Homo sapiens: one gene and its partner. Each later gene encodes a partner of the first gene's protein in a complex. Each region holds a gene or a part of one and is shown on either strand. Other genes may lie near its edges. A codon is read from its position in the direction of its gene.

Region 1 (7,074 bases):
TGGCCTCCAATGAGTTTGACTCTGCTTCTGGGGCTCCTGTAGTGAGGCAGAGTTTGGAAAAACTGTTTAAAGATAAGGCTTGACATCCAGGGGGCTGGCGTGAAGCTGACAAGGAAGGGGCTAAAGTCTTGCTAATTTTAAGTAAGTGCACTTCATCATAATGAATGTTGGCCTTGCCTAGGGAGCCCCTACTCTCAGACACAGAGAAAGCTGAGGACTTATAGGACTTCACTACAATTTTCATTTCACTTCATCTAACAGATGTCATAGAGTAGTGAATTAGGCATCTGCTGTGGCAGAACCTTCTTTTTACTCTCAGCATCCCTGGCTTGAAAGGCAGATTTGTAGATTTCTAGGAAGCTACTTCAATTAAAATCTCTAAGATCCTCTTGCTAAGGGCTTGGCAACAGGGAGGAGGGGGCATGTTGTAGTGGTTGAATTCTTACTTTTAGGGACACTGATGAATTTGTCTTTTGTTCTCTCATCTCTTTTGCTTCTTCCCCTCTTCTTTCTCCTAGCCTCCTCTATTGGCCCAGGAAGCCCACCCAGCCCCGCCACGCAGAGCCCAGAAGGAAAGAAAGCCTCATGCCTGAGCCGAGGGGAGCACCATGGATCTGACAAAAATGGGCATGATCCAGCTGCAGAACCCTAGCCACCCCACGGGGCTACTGTGCAAGGCCAACCAGATGCGGCTGGCCGGGACTTTGTGCGATGTGGTCATCATGGTGGACAGCCAGGAGTTCCACGCCCACCGGACGGTGCTGGCCTGCACCAGCAAGATGTTTGAGATCCTCTTCCACCGCAATAGTCAACACTATACTTTGGACTTCCTCTCGCCAAAGACCTTCCAGCAGATTCTGGAGTATGCATATACAGCCACGCTGCAAGCCAAGGCGGAGGACCTGGATGACCTGCTGTATGCGGCCGAGATCCTGGAGATCGAGTACCTGGAGGAACAGTGCCTGAAGATGCTGGAGACCATCCAGGCCTCAGACGACAATGACACGGAGGCCACCATGGCCGATGGCGGGGCCGAGGAAGAAGAGGACCGCAAGGCTCGGTACCTCAAGAACATCTTCATCTCGAAGCATTCCAGCGAGGAGAGTGGGTATGCCAGTGTGGCTGGACAGAGCCTCCCTGGGCCCATGGTGGACCAGAGCCCTTCAGTCTCCACTTCATTTGGTCTTTCAGCCATGAGTCCCACCAAGGCTGCAGTGGACAGTTTGATGACCATAGGACAGTCTCTCCTGCAGGGAACTCTTCAGCCACCTGCAGGGCCCGAGGAGCCAACTCTGGCTGGGGGTGGGCGGCACCCTGGGGTGGCTGAGGTGAAGACGGAGATGATGCAGGTGGATGAGGTGCCCAGCCAGGACAGCCCTGGGGCAGCCGAGTCCAGCATCTCAGGAGGGATGGGGGACAAGGTTGAGGAAAGAGGCAAAGAGGGGCCTGGGACCCCGACTCGAAGCAGCGTCATCACCAGTGCTAGGGAGCTACACTATGGGCGAGAGGAGAGTGCCGAGCAGGTGCCACCCCCAGCTGAGGCTGGCCAGGCCCCCACTGGCCGACCTGAGCACCCAGCACCCCCGCCTGAGAAGCATCTGGGCATCTACTCCGTGTTGCCCAACCACAAGGCTGACGCTGTATTGAGCATGCCGTCTTCCGTGACCTCTGGCCTCCACGTGCAGCCTGCCCTGGCTGTCTCCATGGACTTCAGCACCTATGGGGGGCTGCTGCCCCAGGGCTTCATCCAGAGGGAGCTGTTCAGCAAGCTGGGGGAGCTGGCTGTGGGCATGAAGTCAGAGAGCCGGACCATCGGAGAGCAGTGCAGCGTGTGTGGGGTCGAGCTTCCTGATAACGAGGCTGTGGAGCAGCACAGGTAGGCCCCGCTCCAGCCCCGCACCTGATGTAGGACTTGAGGCCCTCACACCCCTCCTTCACACCCTGGCTGCTCCCAAGTTAGGGGCCTGGCTCCCCTGTCTTGGCAATTTGTGAAAAAACCAGAACACTTCTTCTAAAGTTCTGGCGGGGAGGGGAGCAGGTTTTTTAAAGTGTAGTGAGGGGGCCTAGGATCTTTCCAAAAAGCACCAGGGGACACTCATGGGCGCAGCTTCTTAATAGGCCCTTCCCTTTGTTTTTTGCTTTTGGGCCCCTGTTTGTTTTTTCGGCTGTTTGGTCTGTTCTCCTTTGCTTGGAGTGACTGATAAAATGGAGAGAAGGAGAAAAGGAGTGGGATGAGGGTCTCTTGGGCCCTGCATCTGACCATGTTACTAGGTTTCAGGTCCTCGGGTTCCCATGCAGTGGTCCCTGTGAAGACAGCCTGTCCCTTTCTGCAGCTTGGGAGAATGGGAGGGTCTGGGGGCTGCTTAAGCCACAAGAGCAGCTGCAGGTTCTGAACCTTATTCCTGGTGAAAGTTAATCTCCTTGCTCTGTCTCCCTTCTCATTCTCTGATCCTGCACATGCATTTAGGGGGAATTGATTTAAATGCAAGGGGAAAGGATGGGTATAAGAGTCTTGGTCTTGCAGCCTGTGAAGTCTCATTCTTATCCCATCTCTGCTCACACTGAACTAAATGCCGCTTCAGGCTAGCATTGGCTTCCCTCCGGCTTCCGTTTCCTTCTCTATGAAATAACCATTCATTGAGCTCTTATGACATGTTTGGTTCAGTACTAAGCACTTTCCATGAGTTGCATTTTCATTACAACAGCCCTTTGAGATAGGTAATGTCCTTCTTTTTTTTTTGGATGTGAAGTTTCGCTCTCCTTGCCCAGGCTGGAGTGCAATGGTGTGATCTCTGCTCACCGCAACCTCTGCATCCCGGGTTAAGGTGATTCTCCTGCCTCAGCCTCCCGAGTAGCTCGGATTACAGGCACGCACCACCATACCTGGCTAATTTTGAATTTTTAGTAGAGACGGGCTTTCACCGTGTTGGTCAGGATGGTCTCGAACTCCCGACCTCAGGTGATCGGCCTGCTTCGGCCTCCCAAAGTGCTGGATTACAGGTATGAGCCACCGTGTCCAGCTGGTAATGTCCTTCTTTTACATGGAACAATACTAAGGCTCAGATGTCAAGTCTCTTTTCTAGGGTCACATAGATAGTAAGAGGCAGAGCTGGATTCAAATTTAGGTCCTTACCCCCTGGTACTTTGCTGCCTCTTGGAGTCACTTAGACTTGAAGAGGATCATGTCTATGGAACAGAGCGTTTTGAAGATTGCTTATAGGAAGTGGAGTAAATAACAGGGGGGATAAGTAGCGAGTTTGTTTTTTTTTTCCTTGCTTCTGTCATAAACCACGTGCCCATCATTTTATCCTCTAGTTTCTGGGTCAGATGAATGGAGTCAAGAAATCCAGCTTTCTGTTGTCATTGACGACAGCATTTGGCTGCATACCCTGTGGTCTGCTGTTTTGCTGATCTTGGGTGGATTCTCCACTTCCTCCCCCTTCACCCCCATTCCCCTGTTGCTCGTTCAGGTACGGGGGATGTGAGTGAGAGGGGTTGGGGTGGGGATATCTGGAAGTTGATCTCATCACCCCTAGCCGGAATCTGCTCTGACCCTGCCTCCTCGACAGCTCAGAGGCTTAACTTGTGGAAAGTGTGGCAGAGCTAAACGTAGCCGACTTTTTCCAGTGGGTGCGAAAAATAACCGCCACTAAGGTGTGTCTTCTTGATGCTTGTACCGCTCAGAAATAGACTGAGGTTGTGTTTGTTTTTGCTCAAACTTTCCTAAAGAGGAAACCCGCTCCCCAAAGTTGACCAGATAGATGTATCATCTTTCCGGATGTGAATTATTTCGGCTGTGTGCTATGAGAACTGGGTATGGTGGGAAGTAATTGTTTTTCTGGCTCTCATCAGGTCCTGGTTCCTGGTTGCTTTTCTTTACCCGAGAGGGCCACAAAAGATACCACTCTCCTGAGACTTCCAAGTTCCCCTTCAGCAAGACCCTCATTCCTCTGGGGAGAGAGGGAGAGTTGGCCATGTTATATTCGAAAGAGCCTGGGTATTGGAATTGGCCATATTTAGTGGTGAGAGCCTGTGATACTTATTTAACCTTTCTGGGCCTTGTTTCACTCACTACATTTTTTTTTTTTTTTTTTTTTGAGACGGAGTCTCGCTCTGTCACCGGGCTGGAGTGCAATGGCGTGATCTCAGCTCACTGCAGTCTCCACCTCCCGGGTTCAAGCGATTCTCCTGCCTCAGCCTCCTGAGTAGCTGGGACTACAGGCACCTGTCACCCCGCCCAGCTAATTTTTTGTATTTTTAGTAGAGACAGGGTTTCACCATGTTGGCCAGAATGGTCTCGATCTCTTGACCTTGCGATCCATCCACCTCGGCCTCCCAAAGTGCTGGGATTACAGCTGTGAGCCACCCCGCCCGGCCTTCACTCACTTCTTAAAATGGAGACGGTCAACAGGGTTGGTGCTGAATTAATGAAGTAAGATCCAGAAATCACTAGAGCTGTGATGGGCACATAGTCACCGCAGCGGTGGAGAACTGACCATCTGTCCCTTGTGTTGTTTAGGCCTCATCTCTGCATGGTCCTCATTGGCTCTGAGTTCTAGTGTGTAGTGTCCACAGTGCCACCCTCCATGAGGGTTGTGTTGACTGTGAGGTGGTGCAGAGAATGTCCCTGTCCTTGTGAGCATATGACAGCAAGACACTGGCCCTGGAATCCTCCGTGTCACATGTGGGCTGCTGACAGGAAGAATGTGCTTTTGTTGTTGTTGTTGTTGTTGAGGCAGAGTCTTACTCTGTCGCCCAGGCTGCAGTGCAGTGGCATGATCTTGGCTCACTGCAACCTCTACTTCCCGGGTTCAAGTGATTCTCCTGCCTCAGCCTCCTGAGCAGCTGGGACTACAGATGTGTACCACCATGCCCGACTAATTTTTGTATTTTTAGTAGAGATGGGGTTTCACCATGTTGGTCAGGCTGGCCTGGAACTCCTGGCCTTAAGTGATCCACCTGTCTCGGCCTCCCATAGTGCTGGGATTATAGGTGTGTGCCACCCTGCTGGGCCGAGAATGTGCTTTTGACTGAGGGTGGAAAGTCAGCAGCTGCAGCCCAAGAAGTTAGAGCCAGGGGCAGTGCCTTTGATGGGAAGCTTGGGGGTCTAAAGAAATCAGAAAGGGGAGAAAATAATCCTGCGTGTGCTCAGCCCTCACTCAGATCAACAGCCCCTCGGGTCCCAGCTAGATGTACTTTGTAGAAGGCTTTTTTTCTCCCCCTCACCCTCAAAACTCCAGGATTAATGTGCTATTCCCTTTTTTCTACTGTTCTCTGTCTCCCCCCAACCCATCAGCAGTCTGAGAAATGCTATGGTGGAAAAAAAAAAACAACAGCCCTATAACCAGTACAAACAAAAAGCCAAGACAAAAAAAAAAAAAAAATCAGAAGGGGAGATTTTGAGGCCAGGAAGCCATGGCATTCACTGGAAATATATCAGTGATAAAATAACAGGCTACAGGGTTTATTTTATTTTATTTTTAAGTCAATAGGCCTGAGTGTTGGTAAAGACTAGATACCCAGCAGTCCTTCTTGCATTTCTTCTTGGGGTGGGGGGGCAGAAGGGAATGGAGAGGAAATGAAGGCGGATTGCTGGTAAGTGAGGCAGGAAGGCAGGGAGTTTATTATGGAATGTCATCGGTAAGTTTCCCCATGATTTGATCCCAAGCTGGTGTGGAGTGAAGGGTAAGCTGTTGGCTCAACAGATAGTGAGAATCAAACTTAGTGGAGTTGTAGAGCCTGTTTCCTGCAGCGGACAGCAAGATGTACAAGCCGTCCACTGCAGGAATGACGTGCTGTAAAAGGGATGCAGTGTCAAGTGTAGTCATGGATGGGTGGGAAGACCAGACAAAGGCATCCAATGGGACTGACTTACCTAAACAAACCAGAAGGAAGTCAGAACAGTGGGAAGATCTGATAGATAAGCAGTATTCTGCAGGCAGATGAAGGAGCAAGCTTTGGGCCCCCAAATCTTCACCAGTGCATCCACATTACAGAGGATAATGCCTGAGGGAGGGGAAGATCATCTCAGGATTCTGGAACACTGGGCCCTCCCTTTCTTATTCCAAAAGGCTGGAGCAGTTCTGCATGTAGGCTTCTCTGGAAATGGTCTAGGAACCAGCTCATCCAGGCCAGGAGCACCTGATCATTCTCAGAGTTACGTACATATGCGATAAGATTGCAGGGAACAGTATAGTTCTATAGACTTAAGTGTGAACATAGTCCTCATTTATAGTCCCTAGTCTCCCATGGCTCACGCAGCTTGGTCTTTATGTGTTTCTGAATTTAGTGCTGCAGAGGCACAATGGGGTCTGGTTTCTGGATCTTATACAGACAAGCACTTAGGTCAGCTGCAGTGGATGTCCTGCACAGACACCGTCGCAACTCTTGCCTGGTTCCTTTTTGTTTTTGGAGATGGAGTCTCGCTCTGTCTCCCAGGCTGGAGTGCAGTGGCGCGATCTCAGCTCACTGCAAGCTCTGCCTCCCAGGTTCACGCTATTCTCCTGCCTCAGCCTCCCAAGTAGTTGGGACTACAGGCACCCGCCACCACGCCCGGCTAATTTTTTGTATTTTTAGTAGAGACAGGGTTTCACCGTGTTAGCCAGTATGGTCTCGATCTCCTGAACTCGTGATCCACCTGCCTCGGCCTCCCAAAGTGCTGGGATTACAGGTGTGAGCCACCACGCCCGGCCTATTGCCTGGTTCTTGAAGGGATTCTCAGGAACCACAGGGAATGTCTGAGCCAGCTTTCTGGATCCGTGTGTACAGCCCTTCCCAGAGGCTTTGTGGAGCCAGCTGTACGGTGCATGAGCTTTGTGGCTAAGATATCAGAGTTCTGCCTGGCCCTTGGCCTTGGTCTCTCTCAGATGGTCAGCTGCTCTGTTTTTAGTGGTTGATCATGTAGAAGGCCAACAGGTGTTGACCTTGGTTTAGGCTACTTTTGGGATTTTTGAGGTTTCCTGAGACTCTTGGTTTTCTTTCATCATCCCGTCCAGAACCTCTGATGTCAAACTAAATTCTGTTTGGAAAAGGGTATGCTGTAGAATAATGATAGCCACAGCAATGATATTAATA
Region 2 (7,753 bases), on another chromosome or scaffold:
GATGGTTGCAATTTCCCCTTGCATAAAGGCCCAGGGGACATTGGAGCCCACAAGAGGGCATTTTTCCCCACTGGGACAATAGACCTCTCCACTAGCTCCCTGCTGTTTGATGCTTTGTCTGGAGCAAGGGAAGCAGAACTTGTGCGAAGGGACGGACGGGCACTGCACAAAATGGGTGTCCTCCAGCCGCTCGTGGCAGAGGGTGCAGCACAGCGGGGCACTGGTTGCCAGAGAGGAGTCCGGGAGGCTGGCAGGGTGCACTGGCTCCAGTCCTCCTGTGTTGCCTGCTCCCTGGCCCCCCACCTCTCTGGGGCCCAGCCTTCTTTGGTTCATAGAGGACGGAGAGGGCGGACTGTTGCTATTCCTCCTGGTAGTGGAGTGAACCTGGTTGGCATCTTTTGAGGCATGACTGCCCCCTGCATTGTCTGCTACTAAGATCAGGGCTGCCATGGGGGACTGGCCATTCTGGGCCGCTTCAGGCGGTGTGGTCCGGTTGGAATGAGGTGAGGCAGTGGGTGGTGGCGGAGACACAAAAGAGGATGTAGGAGTCATGGGGATCTTGAGCCCCTCTGTGGATGTGGACAGCCACGGCTGGGCCTCTCCGTTGATCTTAGGGGGCCCGACTTCACCTTCTGGTTCTGGAGAGGGCTTCCTTTTCCTTGCTGTTCTTGCAACTGGAAACACAAAGAAATAAAAGGAAAAAGGTAACATAAGTGGCGGTGCACTGAAAGAGATCATTCTCTTCCTAACCCGAAACAAAAGTCGTTACAGAATTCCTCCTCTCTAAAAGCACAGACAGAAAATACTCATATACGAGTTTCAGGTGCACATGCAACTTAAAACCTTCAGGCGTACGGGATTCTGAGGCAGCAGACTGATTTAAAATGGAGCCACTGAAAATGACACGCTTGTAACTGCCTGTTTGTACACATGCACAAAAGTACCCTCGTTTGCACTCAACATGTGACTGCTAATGTCCCCCAATAGGTTAAAAGGTGACTGGTGCCCTCATGCTCCCATCCAAGAATGTGCTGGGAAAGGAAAACCCCGTGTCAGAGCGTATCAGCCCAGTCTGACTCATCTCTGTTATGCTGCTTCAGCACATGAACACGTTGCCACCAAGCACTGGTTCCGCCTCAGGCAGATCAGGAAGTGGGGTGTTTGTTGTTTCTGGGCTGGGGTAAAATGGTGAATCCAAAGAACCACCCTTCCTCTGCTCTCCGTCCCCTTTTCTCCCCTAGACCCCCTCACTTCACAGCCGCCCCTACCTGCTTTAGACCCGTTGGCCCCGTTGGCCTCGAAACCCAACAACCTGCCTGCAGTCAGGGCCGGCTCCTTCTTAAACTTGCTCTCGAAGGGCCCCGAGTGGCCGTGCTGGTGCAGCGCCAGCAGCGTGTCGCGCACGGTCTTGGGCCTGTTGACCCAGTCCTGCTCTCCAGACCCGCGGCTCTTGCCCGCACCTTCCGCGCTCAGCTCGGCGGCCCCGGCCGCGGTGGACAGGCTGTCGGCCGGGCCCCGGTGCGCAGGCGGCGGCGGTTGTTTCTCCTTGGCTGCCGCCTCACGCTGCTCGTGCTCCACGGCAGCGCTGCTCGACACGGATGCCGGCCGCTTGTGGGCGCCCAGATCGGTGGGCTGCGCGGAGCCCAGGCTGGCGGCCGCGGTTCCGGACACCGCGGCTAAGGAGGCGGCAGCGCGGCCGCCGAGGCCGAGCGCGGTGGGCAGCGGCGTGGCCGAGCCGTTCATGAGCGGCACCAGGGTGGGCGGCACCGCGTGGCCGCGCCGCGGGTTCGGGCTCTGGCGATTCAGCTCGGGCGGCTCCTCTAGCTTGGAGAAGCCGTTGGGCACCAGGATGCCGTTCACGGGCGGCGGCTGCGGCGTCGGCGGCTGGGCCAGGCTCGCTGCCGGGCGGCTGCTGCCGAAGTCAGAGCCGAGGCGCGGGGGCCTCTCGGCCGCGGCCGCCAACGGGTAGCGCTCCAAGGCCTGCGGCGCGCGCGGGGCCGCCTCGGGGCCGCCGTGGCCAAGCTGCTGCTGCTGCTGCAAAAGGATGTCCTTGGCGGAGAGCGGCGGCGGCTTGGCGGCGGCCGAGGCCGCGGCGCCGGGTGGGGAGCGACCCTCCGGGAAGCAGCCGTGCGCCCGCTTGAGCTGCCGCGCCGTCTCGATGACGAACTCGACGCGGTCGGCGCCCTCGTAGTTGACGCAGCCGCGGCAGACGGGTTCGGTGAAGTCCCAGATCATGGCCCAGGGCATGCGGGGCAGGTCACACAGGTAGCACGACTGCCGCCGGGACGCGGCCGCCACCGCCACCGCCGCGGCCATGTCCGAGGAGCCCGCGACGCCGGAGGAGGAGGCGGAGGAGGAGGAGGGGGCGCCGCCGCCGCCCCCCACCGGCACCACGCGCGCCCTCCTCCCCCCCCAACCCCGCGTCTCCCCCACCAGCGGCGGCGGCGGCCGCAAAGGCGGCGGCGGCGGCGGCAAAGCCCGCGAAGGCTCGGCGCCCGCGCAGCGCCCCCGGTGCACGAGGGGCGGCGGGCGCGAGGTGAGGGGCTGCAGCCGCGGCAGCAGTTCCCCCCGGCCGGCCCGGGCACGGGCGGGCGGCGCGGCGCGGCGGGGCGGCGGGCGCGGCGGTGGGGGCTCGGCCGGAGCCGCGGCGGGCCTCCAGACCGGGGCGAAGACGGGCCGCGCGGGCGCGGGGGAGCGCAGCAGGTCGCGGCGGCGGCCGGCACGGAGTGCGGGGCGGGGGGCGGGGAGGCCGGGGGGGCAGGGGGCGGGGGGCGGCCGCCGGGGCAGGCTCAGCCCGAGCGGCGGGGCATGCCGCGCCGGGGTGGCGGCGGCCGGGCGGCGTGGAGCTCGGGCGCGGCGCGGGCCCCGGGTCGCTCCGCCGCTCTCTCACAGCTCCTGGCGTCGCCGCTCTCCAGCGCCAGCGTCAGCGGCCAGCCCGCCTCAGCTCCGCCGCCGCCACCGTCGCTGCTGCTGCTGCCGCCGCGACCGCTCCACTTCTACAGACTTGATTCTTCGACAGTCTCGCACGGCGCCTGCGCGGGCCCCCTCCCCTCGTGCGCGTGCCCGCCCTCCCGCGCGCGCGCTCCCCCTCCCCCCGCGCGCCGAAGGAGCGCTGCCGGGAGAGCCGGCTACGCGGCGCCCGCCCGCCCGCGGGGCAGCGCAGCAGCGCAGCGCCGGTGTTCCCTTCGGAACACCGCGCAAAGTGATCGAGTGCTTTTCCTCCACTTTCCCTCACTTCGCGCCCCACCCGGCTGTCCCGACCACCCTCAGGATGTTTTCCTCTGGTGTGCCTCTGGGCCAAATCGTGCTAAAAATCATTTTTTTTCTTTTATGCAAGGACACTTTGTCACTTGGTTTCCGTCAGTCTCCTGAGAATGGGGAATTTAGGTCTAGCGTGGTTCACAGTTCTGGTTTTTTAGGAGTTATACTTGAAAGCTCAATGTCGGACACATAGCATGAAATCCGTCACTGGTGCTTTGCATTTGTCTTGGAAAGGACATACGCCCCGCCTGTCCCTTTTACTAACTAGGGAGACTGTGAATATTCCCAAGCCCAGCACCACGTGCACACGCCGCCAGCTGGCTCGCGCGTTTTCCACGGAGCCCTCTGGAGGGGAGGGAGCGCGGTTCGGACTAGCCTCTCCCGAACACCAAGTGCCGCTCTTAGCCCCGTCCAGCCCGCCCTGTTCATCGGGGGCCTCGCCGCGCCAGTCGCCCCGGCTGCCTTATGTAGGTATGCGCGGCGGGCGCGTGACGTGGGCGCGGGGCCGTGGGCGGCCGCCGCCGCGAGTGCGCACGCTCCGCGCAGACGTGCCTCGGCGCCGCTGGCACTAGGGCCTCGTGGAACGAATGCACATTCCAGGGATCCGGGGTCTACGGCCAGCGCGGCCGCGTCACAGCGCAGGCTCCACCCCCTTCGGCGAGTCTGGGCGTCGAGGCGCCGCCCCCGGGCCCGAACTTGGACTCGAGGTGGCGGGAGGCGAGGGCGCGAGTGGGGGGGGGGGGGGTCCTGCTCGCCTCCGCGAGGTTCCCGAGGGCCGTGGGGGCGACCGGCTGGCTGGCTGGCCCGCCGTCCCGCAGGGCGGGCCGCCGACGGAGGCGGACTTTTGCCCTATATGCCACCCAGGCCGGGATGAGCCCGGCCTGCAGGTCTGCCACCGTTGGCAGCCTCAGACTCAGCCCAGACTGAATTGAATGTTTGAGTTTCGCACTTTTATCGGGAGGAGGAGCTAGTGTGTGTTATGGTAAATCACTTTGGGCTGGTCGTTAGTCTCCCTAATACACGTAGGCTTAGTCGCTCTTCAATTGGGACTTTTACACTTAAGCTCTTTAAGGGCGGCCTCTGGAGCTGCTTTTGTTGGGAACACAGGCCCACAACTCTCCCTTGAGACTGGAATGAGCTGGTTAAGTGTGGGAAGAACAGGGTACTAATTATATTATCTTTCCTACAACTGGATTGGTAGGTGGAGAGAAAAAAAAAATCATGCTGACGTTTCTCTCTAGTCGTTGCTATTGAAAATACCAGGTTGCTTCAAAGGATTAACCACAAGGAAGAGGAAAAACACCCTTAGAGAAACAGTGGAGGGAGCTGCTTAAAACACATGAAAAAACCTGTTCGAAAATGGCACAGAAAACGTAATGTCAGACCTAAATGTTTTTACAGGCTAACCTTGAATGTCTTTTGGGGATTTCCATAGAAGGTGCGCCTGTTTTAAAGGTCTCTGCATCTGTTCCTGGATCTTGCCCTGCAATTGCAATCCTGCCTCACCCTCTCCAAGCTGGGAGAATGGGGCCTGTCCAGATCCTTCCCGGGAGTAGCTGGTGCCAGCGGGTTTGGTCACTCCCAGGCCCTGCTGTTGCACACCGCTTTCAAGACCTGTCCCTTTGGTCACCCTCCTCAGAGACCCTGTGACACTCATTCCAGTACATGCCTTCACCCACTGCGTCACTGCCCAAAGGGGATGAAGTCCAGTCCTTGTGCTGCAGAGAAATGAACCAACTCATCGCCCCCAAGAGACGGCCCCACTAAGCATTGACTGAAACATACTAAAAGAAAACACAACTCACCATTAGAGTTGTGGCCTAATTATACTCATTTCTCTGCAAGCTGGTACTGTAATGGCCTCAAGGGGAGAGCCTGCCACTCCATCCTAAAATAGAATTAGAGATAGAAATTCTGCCACGATACTAAGATCTTTGCAAAACGGAGCTTTTCTTCTCCAAAGGAAGAGCATTTCCTTCTTATTTTACACTGCCAGTTTCATGTCGAAACTGAGTTGTTGTAACTTCCCTAATGAAATGCCCGATGGAAAATGGAAGGGCTATTTTAGTTCTGGGCTCGATCCGGAATCAAGGGGGTTAAGGCTGGATTCAGGGCAGCAATTCCTTATATTGTATCAGAAGTCTTTCATGCAGCCTGGCCTTTCATGTAGCTCTGAAGCAGCTTTATCGATGTATGCTAAGTAAACATAGCTTTGTTTTTGTCTTCCACCCACCGCTCCCTCCCGGCACAGACTGGAGTTGGATCCCATCCAAAGCGGCTGCTGCAGCAGTTACAGCCGCCTCCTCCACACACAGGAGCAGGGTTTCTAGGGTGAGGCAATGCGTCTGCAATTCGCAGAGACAAGGCAGGAATTGTAATTGTAGTTCATCATGTGATGACTTATGAAAGAGGAAGTTGGTATGTTTTAGTCACGTAGACTCTGCCCTCTTGCTTGAGGCACCAGGTCCTCTCAAAAGAGAATTATGATCATCTTTGCCACCCAGAGTCAAGGTTACCGGGTTGGCTGCAGTGTGCTCCTGCACATTCATATACGGACAGGCAGGCAGATGCTGGGCCAAGTGTCGGCGACGCAGCGGGATGAGGCTGGCTTTTCACCAGAACACTAAAATGTTGCAATTTGTCTTAAGGACTAAAGGAAATATTCTATGGAGAACACTCCTGCTGAGACTAGACAAACCAACAGTCCTTTCCAGCTCTAATTTCTGAGAGTTGTTTTTTTTTTTAAATAAAAATCACAGTGTAGGAGTAAAAGGAAAGCCATTCAGTATGACACTATCAGAAAAGCAGGAATAAGGAAGTGGCTTGGAAGGCAAACCTAAGAGAGCAGTTGTAAGCGATAGCTCAATGGGTAGAACTAATGTGACCTTCCGACACTGAGATTGAAACGGGCTTCTACTGCGTGAACGTTAAACATCTAAAATCTGAATCTGGTTTCCAGAGCTTACTCCAGTCAAGCAGCTATTAACACACGGAAGCCCTGAACTGACAGTCTATAGAGCAGTGTAAAGAAACGGTTCCTACAAGAGTACCTTATTGGAACTTTGCCCCCAGGTTATGCAGCTGCAAGAGGGGTGCAACCCCATTCCCCCAGCAGCTTGTGGGTGCTGTCCAGGAGATAGATGGTATTCCTAGGAACTGCTGAGTTCGTGGCTTTCACCCTCTATCCAGAGGTGGAATCACAGCCTTCATTCTTTAGAGTGCAGTTTCCTTAAATAGCATGATGTTGCAACCATGCTAAAGCTTCTTAAACTCTGATCTTGGCGTATTTGAAGAAGAGAAAAAATGCAGCCACATTTCATCTGGATTTCTGTGGACATCATTGCGGGTTTCTTCAGCTTTGGCAAAAGTGTCGTAAGGTTTGAAGAGCACACGTGATATTCAGGGCTTTTCCAATTTTTTAAATAAGTTATATATATTTGAACACATTTGTTTATATGAATATATCTACACATACTATGGAGCACCATGACATAAATGAACCTTCTGTAATTGATATGAGAGTCTTCCTTCTTAGTAACAGCATTTTATGAGACAATCTTACTGTTTTTCAAATTGCAAATATTCTTTTTTAGAAATACTTTCCCTCTGTTTGACCTCTCTCTATAGCCTACCTCCCCTGTGCACAGAGCATACAGATATTAAAGAGACTTTTGCATGTGGAGGAGATAAACTCTCTGTGGAGGGTCTAAGAATCAAGCCAGATAAAATCACAGGAGCTCTTAATCATCCACATATTGTACACAGAAGCTGTTAGTCGGCAGCCTATATGTCAACGTATGTATAGGTCCCTATTTAGAGCAAAATTTGGGATCTTGATGAAGGTTAAATACTCACTGTGTCAGAATTTAAAGAGCTAAGTGAGAAACAGACAAAATAGACAAAGGAGAGATTGAGGTCACACACTTGCTCAGTCTGCAAGGAAATTTGTAGAACTGGAAGGGATTCAACAGCCATTTGATGCCAGTAAACCTCCTATTGACTTTTTGGAAAAAGCAGGATGAAATGCACTTTTCTGGAATATCTGGATGTGGGTTTAACTTAGAATATTTAAAACACTCACTGAAGCCCTTTGAAAGATATCAGTAGGAAGATGTTGACAAAATAATGAATTAACTTCACAGATAATGTTTGAAAATATAAAAATGGTAAATTTTCCCTTCTTAGCTTTTCTATTAAAAAATGTACATTTCCTACATACACATTCCATAGCATAAGAACTGAAAAAGTCAAATAATGTAATAATTCTAAAACGTTAAAGAACAGTACGATGGCATGGTATTTGCTGTATCTTTCACATGAACATTTTAAAAAGATATTTCAAGGATAAATTCTATTCTCTTGTCATCCTTTTCAGAAACTAAAAACCTGACTTACCTAAAGTAACATGAAAAGTGAGTGTCAGAGGCCAGACGCGGTGGCTCACGCCTGTAATCCCAGCACTTTGGGAGGCCACAGTGGGTGGATCAGGAGG

Evidence for each region. The genes of interacting proteins can lie anywhere in the genome.
Region 2: the proteins of ZBTB16 (region 1) and IRF2BP2 are in contact, whole or in part, in a crystal structure (PDB 8YTH), measured with the Homo sapiens proteins. Residues at the interface, in NP_001018011.1 of Homo sapiens: Arg285, Ser287, Val288, Ile289, Thr290, Ser291; in NP_892017.2 of Homo sapiens: Thr516 (codon at 177), His517 (codon at 174), Phe518 (codon at 171), Val519 (codon at 168), Gln520 (codon at 165), Pro522 (codon at 159), Phe531 (codon at 132), Leu557 (codon at 54), Trp564 (codon at 33), Ala565 (codon at 30), Phe566 (codon at 27), Met567 (codon at 24), Glu570 (codon at 15), Thr573 (codon at 6), Ile574 (codon at 3).

Annotation. Positions count from the first base shown.
Region 1 is NC_000011.10:114,062,693-114,069,766, forward strand, and holds part of ZBTB16 (zinc finger and BTB domain-containing protein 16), read left to right. Parts: intron 1-518; 5' UTR 519-608; coding exon 609-1,876; intron 1,877-7,074. UniProt on the Homo sapiens protein: Acts as a transcriptional repressor. Transcriptional repression may be mediated through recruitment of histone deacetylases to target promoters. May play a role in myeloid maturation and in the development and/or maintenance of other differentiated tissues.
Region 2 is NC_000001.11:234,607,179-234,614,931, forward strand, and holds the start of IRF2BP2 (interferon regulatory factor 2-binding protein 2), read right to left. Parts: upstream 3,001-7,753; 5' UTR 2,317-3,000; coding exon 1,269-2,316; intron 675-1,268; coding exon 1-674. UniProt on the Homo sapiens protein: Acts as a transcriptional corepressor in a IRF2-dependent manner; this repression is not mediated by histone deacetylase activities. Represses the NFAT1-dependent transactivation of NFAT-responsive promoters.